Linked DNA regions of Homo sapiens. The protein of the gene in region 1 interacts with the protein of each later gene in a biochemical or structural test. Each region holds a gene or a part of one and is shown on either strand. Other genes may lie near its edges. The genes, in order: KLHL8 and RAPSN.

Region 1 (9,231 bases):
TAATGATATGAATTTATTTGTTTGGAGTCAAATGAAAATACTTCTCTATTTGACAGGTAAAGTGTATGCAGTAGGTGGACATGATGGAAATGAACATTTAGGGAGTATGGAGATGTTTGATCCTCTCACTAATAAATGGATGATGAAGGCATCAATGAACACAAAGAGGTAGATCAGCATGGAAAGTTATTTTGAACTGATGGTGGAAATAAAGTTTCTTAAAATTTAAAGGCCTTATTTTAAACTTTTTTTTCTACTTTAGAAACTTTAAATACCTTCTCAAACACATTTTGTTAGCATGTCCAAAGTGATACTTTGTTAACACCTTTTATTTTTTTTAAGAATTAAAAATGCAGTCATGTTTTAGAGTACCATATGGTAGTCACAGTTTTCACTTATACATGAGCATTGATTTTTTTAAACATTTTATTTTGAGATAATTTTAGTTTATTCAGAGAAGTTGCAAAAATATTAAAGTTTCTGTGTACCAGTGGTTCTCAACTGAGGATGATTTTGTCCCCTCTATGGGACACTTGGCAGTGTCTGAAGACATTTTTGGTTGTCACAGCTTGGGGATGGGAAAATTGCTGCTAGCATCTATGGGAAGAAGTCAGAAATGATGCTAAAGATTCTATAATGCACAGCAAAGAATCTTCTAGTCCAAATGCCAGTGGCAAAGATAATCCCAAGTGCCAGTGGCAAAGATAATGCCAAATGCCAGTGCTGAGATGGCAAAACCTTGCCACCTACCCTGCACCTGGCTTCCCATAATGTTAACATGTTACACAGCCATAGCAGTTACTGAAATTAGCATTGAACAGTAGTATTAATTAATCTGTAGACTTTTTGAGTCAATTTTCCCAAACATCCTTATGCTTCTTACTGATTTTTCTTGTCTAATTGTATTGCCTAATAATCTAATACAGGTGAATAATGGCAGAGATAGTAGGTGTTTTTGTCTTGTTCCTGATCTTATTAGAAAAGTATCTAGTGTTTTGCTATTAAATAAGATACTGACTTTAGGACTAAGGTATCTATATTTTTATCATGTTAAGAAAATAGTCCTCAATTTCTCTTTTCTTCATTGATTTTTATCCTGATGAACAGTAATATTTTAAGTTCTCACCTACATATTTATGTTCTCATTTACATATTTATGTTCTAATATTTATATTCTCATCAACATAAACTGGAATATATGCTGATTAATGTATCAGTCTAAAGGGAAGATTTTTAGTAACATACTTAGTACTCTAACCTGTTTGACACTTTCATTAATGACTTGAATACCAGCTTTTTAGATATCCTAAGGTGGAAAGATCACTAAGGCATGTGACCAAATCAGGATTCCAAAGACGGAGTAGACCACATATACTCTAGACAAAAACCTAAAAAATGTTAAAATTAGAGTTATAGGTTAAAACCTGCCTTAGGTATTTTAAAAACTCAATCCCACGAGTACAACATAACATGGTGGGAAATCAGGTTTTTGATTGTTTCATATGGAGAAAAGTACCTGAACCATTATGAAACACAGCTCTTAAAAAAAAGGAAAGGAAAAAAGTGAATATAATACAGTTGCCTACATTAAAAGAAGTGAAGCCTTAGATTAAGGGAGTTATAGTTGTATTGTTCTTGACACTGATCTCTCCGTATCTATAGATGTATTGTTGAAGTAGGGTATATAACACCAGTTGGGGTATGGGAATAAAAGATTAGACTCTCTGTACATTTTTAAAAATTTATTTTGGGTGGATGTTTTATAATGAACATAACTTGTTAGTACAGTAACATGTTTATAATTTGAAAATAAGATCTATAGAAAATGCACAAAAATGGATTGTAATAAATGTGAGAATGATAATCTGGAATGCATGTAAGAAAAAACTAGCAGGTTAGTAATACAACTGAAAACCATGTTATCTACAAAAAATAGTTGAAGCGTTGTGATCTGGAGACAAGAAAACTTACAGGAGTTACTAGATATTTTAAGAGTGTATGTTGATTTAGTAGGAAGGAATAAATATTTGTTTATGATTCAGTATAGTAGCAATGAAGCATACTGTAATTCCTCCTAGTGATTGGAATTGTATTGTCAGAAAGATCACATATATTTTGCACCAAATGGGAGATTAAATTTTATTGCCTATTTTTTTTCAACTTTATTGTTCTGTTAATAGCGTGAGGATTTCAAAGACTGAGCTTAATAATTTGTATAAAACTAGATACTAGAATAATTCTGTCTCTGTGTCAGAGTGAAAATATAATGCGAGAAGAGAGAAGAGGGCTATCTTAGTAAATATTGAAAATATTGCTGAAGAGTTTCTTTTAATAAAACTGCAGGTGGGCCGGGCATGGTGGCTCATGCCTGTAATCCCAGCACTTTGGGAGGCCAAGATGGGCGGATCACCTGAGGTCAGGAGTTTGAGACCAGCCTGGCCAACATGGCAAAACACCGTCTCTACTAAAAATACAAAAATTAGCTGGGCGTGGTGGCGGGTGCCTGTAATCCCAGCTGCTGCGGAGGCTAAGGCATGAGAATCGCTTGAACCCAGGAAGTGGAGGTTGCAGTGAGCCGAGATTGCGCCATTGCACTCCAGTCTGGATGACAAGAGCAAAATTCCGTCTCAAAAAAAAAAAACTTGCAGGTGATATATATATATACACACACACATACACACATATATATGATATATAATGATACTGACCTTAATATATATAAATGTATCACCCACAGTTTAATTAAAAGAAACAAACCTGAACTAGTAAAACCATACCTGAGACATTGTGGCTTATATGGTTGGCAAATTAGCACCATTCTGCAAAAATGACTTGTTATCAAAATGAGCAATTAAAAACTAAACCACACATGGGGATATGTTGCCTCTAATTTTCTATTTTTGATTAATAATATTTTCAACTGGTTTTTGCTTCTTGTGTTAAAATATGAAAGATTAAAAAAAAATGTGAAGACATTTTAAGCTTTTTTTCCCCTCATGAAAAAGAATCCTAGAAAAAAAAAAAGCTAGTCTTAAACTGTTATCTCCCACTGTCTACAAATGACATTTTAATACTTTAATAGGGAGTGATTTACACTATGTGATAACTGCATGGATTAAAATGGGAGATAAAATCCCAAAGTACTTTTTTAATCTTTATATCCCTGTTACTATGTTGGTTTTTAGCCAAAGATTGAATGAAACTTCTCTAGCAAAATAGCAATTGAATTTCTTTAATCTTTTAAAATATGCCCCGAGCATTTACAATCTGTGTGAAAAATAATAGAGCTACAATTATTTTGTCATATTATTTGTTTATAACTTATATAGCCCCAAATCATCTTTTTGGCATTTCAATACATTTTCACATGTGAAATATCTGGTTATCTTTATTTTTTTATTTCATCTTTCCACTGAAATGGACACCGATGTTTGTTTAAGCTATGAGTCTGTTGAAACCCATCATCCTGACAGCATGTCTAAAGGTTCACTTATTTATTCAAAAAAAAGTTTTAAATGCCCACCACAAGACACACCAAGTGGTAAAGATACAACTTTGTTTTTTGCTACCAGCAGTAGAAAACATAGCCAGTGTCTCTGCCTCTGTATAGCTTACATTGTAGAAGAGAAGATAACAAATAATGACATAAGGGCAATAATATTAGCATGGGGTGAGTAAAGGGTGCTTGAGGAGTGGAGAACATCTTAATGAAGTCCCATTTATTATGATCTGAAGGAACTGCAGAATTTAGCCTGATTAAGTTATTATAGGTGGGGTAAGAGTGGTAAGTGGAGGGAGATGAAGAGCCTTCAAAAACCAGGCGATGAAAGAGAGCAAAGAGCATGAAAGTGGTCCAATGTAGTTGGAAGATTAAGGGGAAGAGTGTCTAGAAATGAGGCAGAAAGAGTAAGTAAAGGTTGAAGGCCTTTCAAGTTTGCCAAGGATATTTTATCTGATGGGCTTTGAATTAAACATATATATTTAATATGCATGTATAGTAAATATACATTTTATATTTTTATTTAAATAATAGGGGAATTGTAGGATCAGATTTCTCTTTTCAGAGAACTTCTGCATTCAAAATGGAGAAGGGATTTGAGGATGACCAGAGTGAAAACAGTCTGACAGACCAAAAAGGGTTATTGTAATTCTTCATCCCTTGATGTAAAGAAATAATGGTGGCTTAGACTATACTGATAGAAATTGAGATAGAGAAAAGAGGACATATTTGAAAGATAGTTCAGAGGTGTATGGTCAAAAACACTTTATGATAATTAGAAAGAACAGTTAGGTAGAGGCAAAGATGATTCTTCGGTTTCTGCCTTAAGCAACTGGATGGATAATGGTATGATTTCTGAATTAGGAAAACAACATGGTGAATGGGATAAAATTTTTGTTTGTTTTGTGATGGGGTTGTATTAATTTTCTATGTCCATGTAACAAATTGCCCCCAATTTAGCAGCTTAAAATAGCACCCATTTATTAGCTCACAGTTCAAAAGTCATGCAGGTTTTGCTAGGCTTTCTACTTAGGGTCCCACAAGGCCAGAATCAAGAGATTGGGCTAGGCTTTTGTCTGGAGGCACTGGGGAAGAAGCCACTTCCAGGGCCATTTAGGTTATTGATAGAATTCAGTTCCTTGTGGCTATAGGACTGTTTCTCATTTTTATTGGCTGTTGGCTACAAGTCACTGCCAGATCCTTCCCACATGTTCCCCCCCACCTTCAAACAAGCAATGGCACACTGCATTCACTTGGTTTTTTGAATTTCTGACAATCAGCTGGAGAAACCTCTCTGCTTTTGAAGGTTTGTTTGATTAGATTAGGCCCGCCAAGGTCACCTCCCTTTTGCCATATAATGTAGCATAGTCATGAGAGTAACACCAGGGGATGAAGGTCATGGGGGATGAGGAGTATCTTAAAATTCTGCCTACCACAGCGAGGTGGGCAGTGAGTTTCATTTCAGATTAAAGTTAAGGTTGAAGAGCCAGCAAGACATATTTGAGGTAGAAATTGGGTATATGTCTGAAAATATATATTTGAATTATCACAAATCTGTGGAAAGAATGGGATATGCTTAGGGAGAGAAAGTGTAGAGTGACCCTTAGGGAACTTTATAATTTAATGATGGAGTAAAGAAGGCACTGATGAAGCTGAAAAGCACTAGCCAGAGACGTAGGAGTGGACTAAAACGTATGATGTTATGAAAACCAAGAGAGTTTTGAGGAGTAGGAAATAAGCCAATGATGTTGTCTGCTTTTGTCCTTTAAGGGGAGGGACAATTATGAGGCATACTTACTTTATTTCCCTGACCTAACATCGTTACATTCTAGAGAACACATGTACTTGTTCTCACACACCTGAACATTTTTATCAGCACAGTATTTGGTAAGTCATAGCTTTATACCCAAGAGAAAAGAGGTTGAGGAGCTTGAAAGTGAATGATAACATTATCCTTAAGAATTCTTTTGTTGGATACTCTCTGGTAAATTTAGAGTTAGAATCTCAGTGAAGCAGCTGCTTTCTCCAATAATAATAAAAGCTAATACTTCATAGAACTAAATATGGGCCAGACATTGTTCTTAGTGCTTTACATGTATTAACTCATTAATATCCATCTATGTCTCAGATGAGACACAAGATAGTAGAGGTTTATAAATTATCCAAGCTAGTGACAAAATAATAGTTTGATAATAGTTCAACTTTTGATTGGTGCAGTGTGTTTTTTAAGAAATTGAGTTTTTTTTTTGATCACTGTTAAATCAGCTTTTAACATGGGCTAAGTCTCTTACTTTTAGAGAGAAATAAATACGCTTCAGAAATAAAGCAACGTGACATAAAACTTGTAATATAAAATTTAATACTCTTTTGTGTGGTATAATGAAACCCTGCAACAAAATGAGCTCTGTAATTGCATGGATTTGTAAGTGAGATTGGCTTCTGACCTCCGCTGCAGAACTTCTCTGTCAACTCATTAACCTCTCAGTTATGCCGCTGTGTGTGCACTAATTGAATATTTTGAACTCTTTTATACTATTTTGTTGGGTTATATTTTATTGTTTTGAGTTTAAAGTAGCCTGTGTAGGCTATGCACTGTACAACTTCAGGGGGCAGTATTCACATAGAGTTGCACAGTTTGGCAATTCTGTAGCCATCTAGTCAAAAGCTTTGATAGATCTAAAAATAATGGAAACAAACTATACTGTTTGAAGGTTAACATGATAAATGATTTGCATTAGCACAATTTTTTATATGACTTTTTTTCCTGGAAACAAACTCATTTGCTAAAGTATGTTTTATTGTCTTTGCAGGCGAGGAATTGCCTTGGCTTCCTTAGGAGGCCCAATTTATGCAATTGGAGGGTTAGATGACAATACTTGCTTCAATGATGTGGAGAGATATGACATAGAATCTGATCAGTGGAGTACAGTGGCACCAATGAATACTCCCCGTGGAGGAGTTGGCTCTGTTGCTCTAGTAGTAAGTTATATGGCAACTTGTCATTAAATTACATTGCATTACATTCATAACCAAAATAAGGAAAGGTCCAATATATCATCACCAGTATGAAGATATTATATATCATATTATTTCCTGAAATACTGCCTTGTACATTCTAATTTACCATTAAAACAATATATAAATAAATTCGAAATCTAATGTGTTTTGTTTGACTCTCTTCATTTAGAACCATGTTTATGCAGTAGGTGGCAATGATGGAATGGCTTCTTTATCTAGCGTGGAGAGATATGATCCACATCTGGATAAGTGGATAGAAGTTAAAGAAATGGGTCAGCGAAGAGCAGGCAATGGAGTTAGCAAGCTTCATGGTTGCTTATACGTAGTTGGTGAGTAAATGGGTATTTCTCTAATATATCAGTATATACAATGACAAGTGTCATATAACAGAGTAACAAAAATTACATTGCATTTAGCCTTAAGTAGAATCGGTCCTGAAATGTGCTTTTGAATTCTTTCTTACAAAATTTTGTTTATAATTAACAGAGAATTGTACATGTTCAGTCTGATGCTTTTGAATTCTTTGTTTTTTTTTTTTTCAGAGGGAGACAGTGTCTTTCTGTTGCCCAGGCTGAAGTGCGGTGGCACAATCGTAGCTCACTGCAGCCTTGAACTCCTGGGCTCACATGATCCTCCTGCCTCAAGCCTCTCAAGTAGCTAGGACTAGAGGCCCAGGCTATCACACCCAGCCAGTTTTTTTCTGTTTTTTGTAGAGATGGGTTCTTGCTGTGTTGCCCAGGCTGGTCATGAACAACTGGCCTTAGGTGATCCTCCTGCCTTGCCCTCCCAGAGTGCTGGGATTACAGGCATGGGCCATCATGCCTAGCTGAATTGTTAAGGTCACATTCATAATTTTTGTTTAAATCTTCATCTTTCATGTTTAAAACATGTACAGCCTTATTTTTCTAAGAGTAACAAATTTATTTAAAGAAGGGGATTACATTTAAATAAGGTATATGTTTTTAAATGGAAGGACACAGATTGAATGTGCTTTGCTACAATAAATTTTAAAAGGTCTCAGATTTGTTTTTCTCAACCTCATTTCAAGGGAAATTATGTTGAATACTTCAAGTAAGCCAGTAGGTATTTATTTATTTATTTTTGAGATAGAGTTTTGCTCTGTCACCCAGGCTGGAGTGCAGTGGTATGATCTCAGCTCACTGCAACCTCTGCCACACATGTTCAAGCAATTCTCCTGCCTCAGCCTTCTGAGTAACTGGGATTACAGGTGTGTGCTACCGTGCCCAGCTAATTTTTGTATTTTTAGTAAAGACAGGGTTTCATCGTGTTTGCCAGGCTGATCTTGAACTCCTGACCTCAAGTGATCTTCCTGCCTTGGCCTCCCAAAGTGCTGGGATTACAGGCATGAGCCACCACACCTGGCCTAGGTATTTCATATAAATAAAGGTCATGTCAATGTTTATATTGCTTTTTTTTTTTTTTTTACTTTAACAATCTTTTATTACCAAACCCCATGCAGGTTTAACGCTTTAACCCACCTAACAGCAAAAAAAGGCATTGCTAACAAGATCAAGGATGAAGGTACAGACCCAATAAAGATTGTGTCTTAAAAAAGAAGGATATATATATATGTGTGTGTATATATATGTGTGTATATATACGTATATATATACACATATATATACACACACATATATACACGTATATATACACACATATATATACGTATATATATACACATATATATACGTATATATATACACACATATATACACACATATATATACATATATATATCTTTTAAAAAATAAAAATCTCCAGTGTTGCAGAAAAAAATATTATAAATTGATTTCAGTCCATAAAAAACAGCATGCAGCAGTTTGTGCTATCTTAAAAACCCCAACTCAGGATAACCCTAGGAGAAAATCACCTCCCCCCATTAAAGAAGAATTCTCTTTTCTATTCTTTCTTGTCTAAATTTCACTGCTTATTCCACAAAACGCCGAAAGAATAACAAGACTCAGTTCACATCCCTCAGCCCTTGTCTGTCTGTTAAGGCCAACACCAAGCGCTGTTCCTTAGGAGTCTTCACCTTTACTACAATCAGAAAATTGAGCCCTAATTTCACGGCCAGATTTCTAGAAACCTGCAAAACCCTCATAGTTCCCTCAAGGAAGGACCTGAAGGCCCCTTGAAAGATCAAGGGAGTATAAGTGTACTTGGCAGAGACTGGAATGCCTGCCAGGCTGGGAAAAGGGGGCCTTTCTACACAAAAACACCCCCTAAAATACCTTGTAGTTGAAAGTCTAACTAGGCAAAACCAAGTAACAGCAGGCATCAAACTATGGTTCTACCTAAAGGGTATATATCTTCCCCCTTTAACCATAAAGGTAAGGCGGGGGGCGGGGTGTGGGGTAAAGAGAGCCAAGTGAGCATTTGACTTCATCTGTCTTCTGAGAAGTTAGCATATTTTAGGCTGAAGCCATGTTGTAGAGACATTTGGCCAAAGGATAGTCTTTGCTATGTGTGGCTATATAAAGCTGCCATTTCTGGGCAACCTGGTTCATGGCTGCTTTATGGAAGCTTTACCCCTTATGCAGAGTATTTAAGAATTAATAGGAAATTTTTCAGTTTGATTTTGTAAGTGACAAATACTTTAACAACAGCTTCCCAATAACCACCAATGGAGACAGACTACTCCTCAGCTCAGGATCATAGCTCCTTCCAGTCAGTGGGCTTCTTGCTAGACATCT
Region 2 (9,562 bases), on another chromosome or scaffold:
CATGGTGGCTCACGGGAGGCTGAGGCGGGCAGATCACTTAAGGCCAAAAGTTCGAGACCAGCCTGGCCAACATGGTGGAACCCCGTCTCTACTAAAACTGCAAAACTTAGCCAGGTGTAGTGGTGCTCGCCTGTAATTCCAGCTTCTTGGGAGGCTGAGGCAGGAGAATTGCTTGAACCCAGGAGGCAGAGGTTGCAGTGAGCCGAGATCCCACTGTGTCCGCAGTTGGTTCCTTCTAGTGGGTTCGTGGTCCCGCTGACTTCAAGAATGAAGCCGTAAACCTCTGTGGTGAGTGTTACAGCTATTAAAGGTGGTGCAGACCCAAAGAGTGAGCAACAGCAAGATTTATTGTGGAGAGCAAAAGAACAAAGCTCCCACAGCGTGGAACGGAACCTAAGCGGGTTTCTGCTGCTGGCTTGTTGGGGTGGGGATGGGCTGGTCGGGGAGGCAGCTTTTATTCCTTTATTTGTCTCCACCCATGTCCTGCTGATTGGCCCATTTTACAGAGCACTGATTGGTCCATTTTACAGGGTGCTGATTGGTCCATTTTACAAATCTCCAGCTAGCTACGGAGCACCGATTGGTGTGTTTTTACAGAGCACTGATTGGTGCATTTTACAAACCTCTAGTTAGCTACAGAAAAGTTCTCCTAGTCACCACTCCACCCAGGAAGTCCAGCTGGCTTCACCTCTCACCACCACGGGCACTCCAGCCTGGGCGACAAGAGTGAAAAACTCCATCTCAAAAAAAAAAATAATAATAAAGAAGAAATGAAATGTTTCAAGGAAACATAAGGTACTCTGCTACCTAGAATAAGCGAGTATGGGCATATTCCCATCACTGAAGTCAGATGAGCAAAGACCTGTCTCAGGGAAAGGACAGCTTGATCCCATCAAGTTTTCAAGTTTTGAGGTCATTTGAGTTCCCCAGGAAAGAGGAAGGCTGTGGTCCCCAACTCTGTTGGGGTGTAGATGCAGGCCGCCCTTCCTCCATTCCTTCCTGCCAGAGACTCAATGTGAATAGTGTCTGGGCCTTGGAGTGGGGAGAATCTGCTGGCCCTTCACACCTTCGCTGTGGGCCCAGCTTCCCTCCCATCTGCAGCTCAGCATCAACCCAGGCCTCCCTGAGATGAGAGAAGACCCCAGCCAGCTCTCCCTCCCTTTCCCAGGCTTAGGAGCACTCCTTTGGGGAGTCCAGGTGGCCTTGCCCAGCCACCTGTCCCAGAGCCTGCTCCCACTCTGCCTCTGTTGAGCCTGGGGCATTTGCCTTCTGACCCCCAGAGCGTCCCCTCTGACCCGTTGGGCTCTCAGGAAGCAGGCCGTGTAGTTGCTCTGAATTTCCCGGTGAAGCCGTCTTTCCTCCGCTTCTTCCCCATTCACCGATATTTGACATTTATTGAGGGGCCACAGTGTGCCGGGCCTTGCTCTGGGAATACAGTCAGTAATGAAGGAGACAAAGTCCTGCCCTGGGTTAGGGCCCAGCCATATGACCTCATTTGAGTGAAGAATAAAGACATTCAGCAAACAACCTCACTAATATAAAATTATAGAGAGGCTGGGCGTGGTGGCTCACGCCTGTAATCCCAGCACTTTGGGATGCCCAGGCCAGCGGATCACTTGAGCACAGGAGTTCAAAACCAGCCTGGCCAACATGGTGAAACCCCGTCTCTACTAAAAATATAAAAATTAGCTGGGCATGGTGGCATTGCCTGTAATGCCAGCTACTTGCGAGGGTTGAGGTGGGAGGGTGGCTTGAGCCCAGGAGGTCGAGGCCTCAGTGAGCCTAGATTGTACCACTGCACTCCAGCCTGGGCGACAAAGTGAGACCCTGTCTCAAAATAAAATTATAGAGATAAGTCCTGTATCAGAATGCAGTGTAATTCAATGAGAGGATAATATGCTGATTCATCCTAATTATGACTTACGAGGCAGAGTGTGGGTGTGGTGAACAGAGAAGGAATTAGGAGGTGCAAAGGCCCTGGGGCAGACAGGTAGGCAGGTACCAGAATGTAACAGTTGCCATATTACTCACACTTCTGCTCCAAGCATATACCTAAGAGAAATGAAAACATGTCCCCATAAAACCTAGTACATGAATTTTTTATTTTTTTGAAACAGGGTCTCGCTCTGTCACCCAGGCTGGAGTGTAGTGACATGATTGCGGCTCACTGCAGTCCAAGCTTGTAGGCTCAAGCGATTCTCCTGCCTCAGCCTCGCGAGTAGCTGGGACCACAGCTGTGCACCACCACACCCAGCTAATTTTTTTTTTTTTTTGTATTTTTTGTAGATATGGGGTCTCGCTATGTTTCCCAAGCTGGTCTCCAACTCCTGGGCTCAAGTGATCTGCCTGCTTCAGCCTCCTAGTGTGCTGGGATTACAGGCGTGAGCCACCGTGCCCAGCCCAATTTGTACATGAATTTTTATAGCATCATTATTCATAGTAGCCAAAAATGAAACAACCCAAATGCCTATTAACTGCTGAATCAACAAAATGTATATCCAGACAATGAGTATTAACCAACCACAATAAGTAATGAAGTTCTGATACGGTTGAAAACATAGTTGAATCTTGAAAACATTATGCCAAGTTAAAGAAGCCAGTCACAGATGACCACATATTGTATGATTCCATTCCTGTGAAGGGTCCACAATAGACAGGTCCATAGACACCAGGTGGCTTAAATAACAGAAATTTATTTTCTCACAGTTCTGGACGCTAGAAGTCCAAGATCAAGGAATTGGCAGAGTTGGTTTCATTCTAAGGCCTTGCTCCTGGGCTTGTAGATAGCCATCTTCTCCCTGTGTCTTCACGTGCTCTTCTTCTGTGTGACTGTGTCCTTTTTAAACATTTATTGTGGGCCAGGTGCGGGGGCTCACGCCTGTAATCCCAACACTTTGGGAGGCAGAGGTGGGCAGATCATGAAGTCAGGAGTTCCAGACCAGCCTGACCAACATGGTGAAACCCCGTCTCTACTAAAAATACAAAAATTAGCCAGGTGTGGTGGTGCGCAGCTGTAATCCCAGCTACTCAGGAGGCTGAGGCAGGAGAATCACTTGAACCTGGGAGGTGAAGGTTGCAGTGAGCCAAGATGGCACCACCACACTCCAGCCTGGGTGACAGAGGGAAAGTGTCTCAAAAAAAAAAAAAAGTATTGTGGTCAGGCATGGTGGCTCACGCCTATAACCCCAATACTTCGGGAGGCTCTGAGGCAGGTGGATCAACTGAGGTCAGAAGTTCAAGACCAGCCTGACCAACATGGTGAAACCCCGTCTCTACTAAATACAAAAACTTAGCCAGGCGTGGTGGCATACACCTGTCATCCCAGCTACTTGGGAGGCTGAGGCAGGAGAATTGCTTGAACCCGGGAGGTAGAAGTCTCAGTGAGCTGAGATTGTGCCACTGCACTCCAGCCTATGCAACAAGAGCAAAACTCCGTCTCAAAAATAATTTTTAAAAATAAAAATTTATTGTTTATTTATTTTTTGAGACAAGGTCTTGCTCTGGTGCTCAGGCTGGAGTGCAGTGGCACAATCACGGCTCACTGAAACCTCCACCTCCAGGAGTTCAAGACCAGCCTGGGCAACATGGTGAAACCCATCTCTACAAAAACTAGACAGCTGTGGTCTCAGCTACCCAGGAGACTGAGGTGGGAGGGTCACTTGAGCCTAGGAGGTAGAGGTTGCAGTGAGCTGTGACTGCACCACTGCACTCCAGCCTAGGTGACAGAGTGAGACCCTGTCTCAAAAAAAAGGGGGGGGGGATACCAGTCTTAACTGGATGAGGTACAATGTGACTTCATTTTACCTTAATCACCCTTTAAAGACCCTGTCTCCAAAGACAGTCACCTTATGAGATACTGAGTGTTAGGACTTAAACATATGCGTTTGGTTGCGGGGGGACATGATTCAGTCATATCAAGGTGGGGAATGGAGTGGTGTAACTGCTGATGGGTGTGCGTCTCCTTTTTGGGGTGGTTAAAATGTTCTGGAATTAGTGGCAATTAATGTGCATCTCTGTGAATATACTAAAAACCACTGAATTGCCCAGCCAGAAAGGATAAACTTTTGCCCTGGGGCAGGAAGAAGGCTGGCATGCAGAGAGAGGAGAAAGGGGGGCTGGATGAGCTGGCCTGCTAGCGGGGGCCCCAATACTACATAAGACCTTGCCCTTCTCCACAGTATCTGGTGTTAAATCTCATTATGAGGACCCTTTCAGCCCGGGGTTGGGATTGGAAGTGAGACATTGAAACTTCAAGGGCTGGGTTCTGGCCCGGGTGGGGATTTGCCATGGAGCAAAATAGCCTCTTGCAGCACATGCGGGGTTTCCTGTGCCGGGCACTGTCCTAAGTCCTTCTCAACTCTTTCGTCATTGAGTTCTCATAGCAGTCCAGTGAGCCAGGTACCATTCCTCTCTTCAGTCCACGGTGCCAGGTCACTTGGCTAGGGTCCCACTGAGAGTTCGAAGGAAGCCAGGCTAGAGCTCAGGCCTCTCACCAGCTGGAGGTCTTTCCCAGACTCTCTAAGGTGAGAGTTGGTGAATGGTGTCAGCCTGGGCCTGGATGAGTGACCCACGGTGCTCAGTGAATTTCAGGAACAGAGCCAGGGGATGCTGCGGTCAGGGGTGTCTTGATGGGGAAGAAGCAGGGCTGGGCGCTCACCTGGCTTCCCCGGACCTGCAGGTCCAGCCTCGCTCTCCTTCCCCCGAGCACCTCTAGCCCAAGGCCTGCCCACTTGCTGGAGCTGGCCCCTTGGCAAGGCTGCTGGGAGGGCCCGTGCTGCCAGGGCGGTCAGGGTCAGTGTCAGAGGTGCCTAAGGGACGCCCAAGGGGGTGCCCAGGTGGCAAGGTGCCTGTATGCTCAGGGAAGCCACGTCCCAGCTCGCGGGTGGGTGCAGCAGAGGCCCACGTGACCTTGCTGCTGACATTCCTCAGAGGCCATGTGGCCCCAACTGGCAGCGACAGCTGCAGACGGGCTGAACCAGCTTTGTTCCCAGGGTGGCGCCTGCTCTCCATCCAGGCCCCATTCCGGCTCCCACCCGACGCTGCTTTTGTTCCCACGTTTCGGGGGGCAGCTGGCACTGTGATTCCTGCCCCATGAGTGCCTAGAGGCACGGAGCCACCAGGGATCACCCCACGTGGGACACAGGGCTTGGGGAGGATGGGGCAGGACCAGACCAAGCAGCAGATCGAGAAGGGGCTCCAGCTGTACCAGTCCAACCAGACAGAGAAGGCATTGCAGGTGTGGACAAAGGTGCTGGAGAAGAGCTCGGACCTCATGGGGCGCTTCCGCGTGCTGGGCTGCCTGGTCACAGCCCACTCGGAGATGGGCCGCTACAAGGAGATGCTGAAGGTGGGTGTACCCGGCCTGGGGGCGTTCGAGGGTCAGGCTGGGGCCGGATGTCTCCCAGGCTCCCCAGTCCCCTCTCGGCCTCCTCGGGCTCCCCTGTGTCCCACAGGCTGGCAGCCAGGGCCCGAGGCTCTGAATTTATATCTAAGGCCCTGGGTCTTAGATACTGAGTCTTGGCATCAGATTCAGGCCTGTGGCCTTGAACTGTGGTGCCCGAGTCTCTGAGACTGAGGTTCTCCAGCCTCAGGGTCGAGGGTTTGTGGGTCTCAAGCCCATTGTAGGTTTCAGCCTTCCTGTCTGGTGTTCTGTGTCTGAGCCTGGCGGGGTGTGGGCTCCAGGGTTGCGGCTGGGGGTGGGTGGGTGGTGGAGACTCCAGATCTGAGGCTTGGGATAGAAGGTGAAGGCTGCAAGCCTGAGCTTGGGAGGTGAGGCTGGGGTGTAGGGAAGGTAGCTGAGGCTGGCGGGTAGAAGCTCTGGGTCTGAAAAGAAGCTTTGGGATCTGCTGCTTTGGGTGTGAGGCTGGGGGGTGGGTGTGGGGCCTCCAGGTCTGAGCCTGCAGTGCAGGCTGGGGTCCAAGGCTCAGAGTCCAGGCTGAGCACCACCTGCCCACCGTCGCTGTGTGCAGTTCGCTGTGGTCCAGATCGACACGGCCCGGGAGCTGGAGGATGCCGACTTCCTCCTGGAGAGCTACCTGAACCTGGCACGCAGCAACGAGAAGCTGTGCGAGTTTCACAAGACCATCTCCTACTGCAAGACCTGCCTTGGGCTGCCTGGTACCAGGGCAGGTGCCCAGCTCGGAGGCCAGGTCAGCCTGAGCATGGGCAATGCCTTCCTGGGCCTCAGCGTCTTCCAGAAGGCCCTGGAGAGCTTCGAGAAGGCCCTGCGCTATGCCCACAACAATGATGACGCCATGCTCGAGTGCCGCGTGTGCTGCAGCCTGGGCAGCTTCTATGCCCAGGTCAAGGTGGGCCTGCACCCCAGGGGGACAGCAGTGGAGGGTTTTGGGGCTCCCCTCTCATGAGGCACACACCCTGTGGCACTACCTCATTCAGCCCTCCTTTTAGGGAGGGCTGAGGAGAGTGAGAATCAGAGAGCAAAAAGGCTTATCCAGGAAGGTAACAACTTGGCCAGGAAGCCAGCAAGGGCAGAGCCAGGATTCAAACCTTGATCTGTGTGACTTCCTGGAGGAATAATGGGAGGCTCCTCTGTGAGGACAGGCCAGCGGCCTGCACTGCCATGTTTGCTGTGTGGTCTTGGGCAAGTCACCTATCCTCTCTGAACCTTGGGAGAGATCTGTAAAATGAAGGAGAATAGGACTCACCTTACAGTGGGGTTGTATGGAGTCAGTCATCAAATATTTATTGACCAGCTACTGTATCCCAAGACTGTTGACCCAGGGTGTAGCAGTGAGAAAAACAGCCAAGTCCCCGTCCTCACGAGGGTTGCATTCTAGTTGGAGAAGAAAGACGATCAACACAGTCAGGAAGTCAAGTGGTTAGGAGAAAGCGAAGCGGGGCAAAGGGCTGGCAGCACTGGGCGTGGGGGTGTCATAATTTCAAATATAGTGGTCGGAGGGCCTCGCAGAGGTGATGTTTGATGGCTTGAAGAAGAGAGGGTGTGCCATGCAAAAATCTGGTGAGAGAGCATTCTAGGCAAAAATGGGCGAGCCCCTAAAGCCAAGCTGGACCCTGGGGGAGCATCCTGGAATGTTTCCTGGAATGTTCCAGGAAGGACAGAGGCCAGCATGGCTGCCAGGCGTGTCTCAGGTGTGTGCGGAGGTAGGGAGGTGAGAGGAGGAGGGCCAACTGTGAAGGAACTGATAGGATCAGCCACAGCAGGTTCTGATCCTGGGTATTTTTTGGCGGGGGCAGGGGCGGAGTTTTGCTCTTGTCACCCAGGCTGGAGTGCAGTGGTGCCATCTCGGCTCACTGCAACCTCCGCCTCCTGGGTTCAAGCGATTCTCCTGCCCCAGCCTCCCAAGTAGCTGGGACTACAGGCGTATACCACCACGCCCGGCTAATTTTTGTGTTTTTAGTAGAAATGGGGTTTCACCATGTTGGCCAGGCTGGTCTTGAACTCCTGACCTCAGGGATCCGCCCGTCTTGGCCTCCCAAAGTGCTGGGATTACAGGCGTGAGCCACCGCACCCGGCCAACCCTGGGTATTTTTGTTCCCTTTCCCCTCAGGTATCTGTGCTGTGCTTGGTCCATGGGGGATTTAATGCCTGGCCCCAGTAGATGCTTAATAAATCTTGGAGTTAGTGAGTGGATAAATGCTGATGGATCCAAGGTGGGATGGGAGGAAACGAGTCACCAAGGATGACAGCCAGGACTTTGTTTTTAGGAAGCAGATGTAAGGGGGAGCCATTCAGTGAGATGAGATAGGACTGGGGCAGGACAGGGGTTTTTAAAAACCTTTTTAATTCTGAAGAAAAGTAAGCTAGGCCTGGTGGCTCACACTTGTAATCCCAGCACTTTGAGAAGCTGAGGGGTGAGGATCGCTCAAGACCAGGAGTTCCAGACCAGCGTCTACAAACAGTTTTTTTTTTTTTTTAATTTGGCAAGGCTCATGCCTATAATCTGAGCACTTTGAGAGGCCAAGCAGAAGGATTGCTTGAGCCCAGGAGTTTGAGAGCAGCTTGAGTCGCATAGCAAGACCCCATCTGCACCAAACTTTAAAAATGAACCAGACATGGTGGCTCACACCTATTGTTTCAGCTACTCAGGAGGCTGAGGCGGGAGGATCGCTTGAGCCCAGGAGTTTGAGGCTGCAGTGAGCCATGAGTGTTCCACTGCATTCCAGCCTGGGCAACAGAGCAAGACCCTGTGTGAGAGAAAAAAAAAAAAAGCCCAAGTGTGGGCTTGTGGGGTGTTCATTGCTAGTGGGATGTCCGTGCTTCTAAATCTTTTCAGTTATCAGAATAATGGAAGTTTATACTGACATTTCCAATTCAAATCTAATGTTTCAGGAGCTCCCCTTAACTTATTTTAAACTTGATTGTCTTTTCTCTTAGATGAAAAATCTTAGTTTCTAACCACATAATTAAATATTTGCTTTACCCTACAAAATACGTAAAATAATTCCAAAAGACAATACCAATATTACTCTAGAAAATAAAGACAACTGAATGAAGTTTAAGATTTCTTTGCTGTTCTTTTGGCTTTTTTTTTTTTTTTTTTTTTTGAGACAGTCTCGCTCTGTTGCCTAGGCTGGAGTGCAGTGGCTCGATCTCGGCTCACTGCCACTTCTGCCTCCCGGGTTCAAGCGATTCTCCTGGCTCAGCCTCCCGAGTAGCTGGGACTACCGGCACACGCCACTATGCCCAGCTAATTTTCTGTATTTTTAGTAGAGACGGGGTTTCACCATGTTGGCCAGGATGGTCTCAATCTCTTGACCTGGTGATCCACCCGCTTCAGCCTCCCAAAGTGCTGGGATTACCGGTGTGAGCCACTGTGCCCAGCCTTGTTTTTGTAATGTATCCCACTATGGGTAAACTGAGTACTTTTGTTCCAAAGTCATTGAAATAATATATATATATTTTTTTTTAGAGACGGAGTCTTACTCTGTCACCCAGGCTGGAGTGCAGTGGCACGATCTCGGTCACTGCACCCTCCGCCTCCCGGGTTCACGCCATTCTCCTGCCTCAGCCTCCCGAGTAGCTGGGACTACAGGCGCCTGCCACCACGCCCCGCTAATTTTTTTTGTGTGTGTATTTCTAGTAGAGACGGGGTTTCACCATGTTAGCCAGGATGGTCTGGATCTCTTGACCTTGTAGTCCACCCGCCTTGGCCTCCCAAAGTGCTGGGATTACAGGCATAAGCCACTGCGCCCGGCCAAAATAATTATTTGTGTGTGTGGTTGTAGTAATATGACACACAGTTAGGGACATTTATTTACTTTTTTTTTTTTTTTTTTTTTTGAGACAGTGTCTTGCTCTGTTGCCCAGGCTGGAGTGCAGTGGCGCGATCTCGGCTCACTGCAACCTCTGTCTCCCAGATTCAAGTGATTCTCCTGCCTCAGCCTCCCAAGTAGCTGGGACCACAGGCACTTGTCACCACACCTAGCTAGTTTTTTTGTATTTTAGTGGAGATGGGGTTTCACCATATTAGCCAGGATGGTCTCGATCTCCTGACTTCATGATCTGCCCATCTTGGCCTCCCAAAGTGCTGGGATTACAGGTGTGAGCCACTGCACCCAGCCTTAGGTTTTTGTTTTTGTT

What was found.
Region 2: of the proteins of KLHL8 (region 1) and RAPSN, one has a biochemical effect on the other in vitro, tested with the Homo sapiens proteins (one study listed by BioGRID).

Annotation. Positions count from the first base shown.
Region 1 is NC_000004.12:87,167,694-87,176,924, reverse strand, and holds part of KLHL8 (kelch-like protein 8), read left to right. Parts: intron 1-56; coding exon 57-168; intron 169-6,309; coding exon 6,310-6,478; intron 6,479-6,686; coding exon 6,687-6,846; intron 6,847-8,993; exon of another isoform or gene 8,994-9,231. UniProt on the Homo sapiens protein: Substrate-specific adapter of a BCR (BTB-CUL3-RBX1) E3 ubiquitin ligase complex required for The BCR(KLHL8) ubiquitin ligase complex mediates ubiquitination and degradation of RAPSN.
Region 2 is NC_000011.10:47,444,558-47,454,119, reverse strand, and holds the start of RAPSN (43 kDa receptor-associated protein of the synapse), read left to right. Parts: upstream 1-4,983; 5' UTR 4,984-5,155; coding exon 5,156-5,347; intron 5,348-5,969; coding exon 5,970-6,308; intron 6,309-6,682; exon of another isoform or gene 6,683-6,793; intron 6,794-9,562. UniProt on the Homo sapiens protein: Postsynaptic protein required for clustering of nicotinic acetylcholine receptors (nAChRs) at the neuromuscular junction. It may link the receptor to the underlying postsynaptic cytoskeleton, possibly by direct association with actin or spectrin.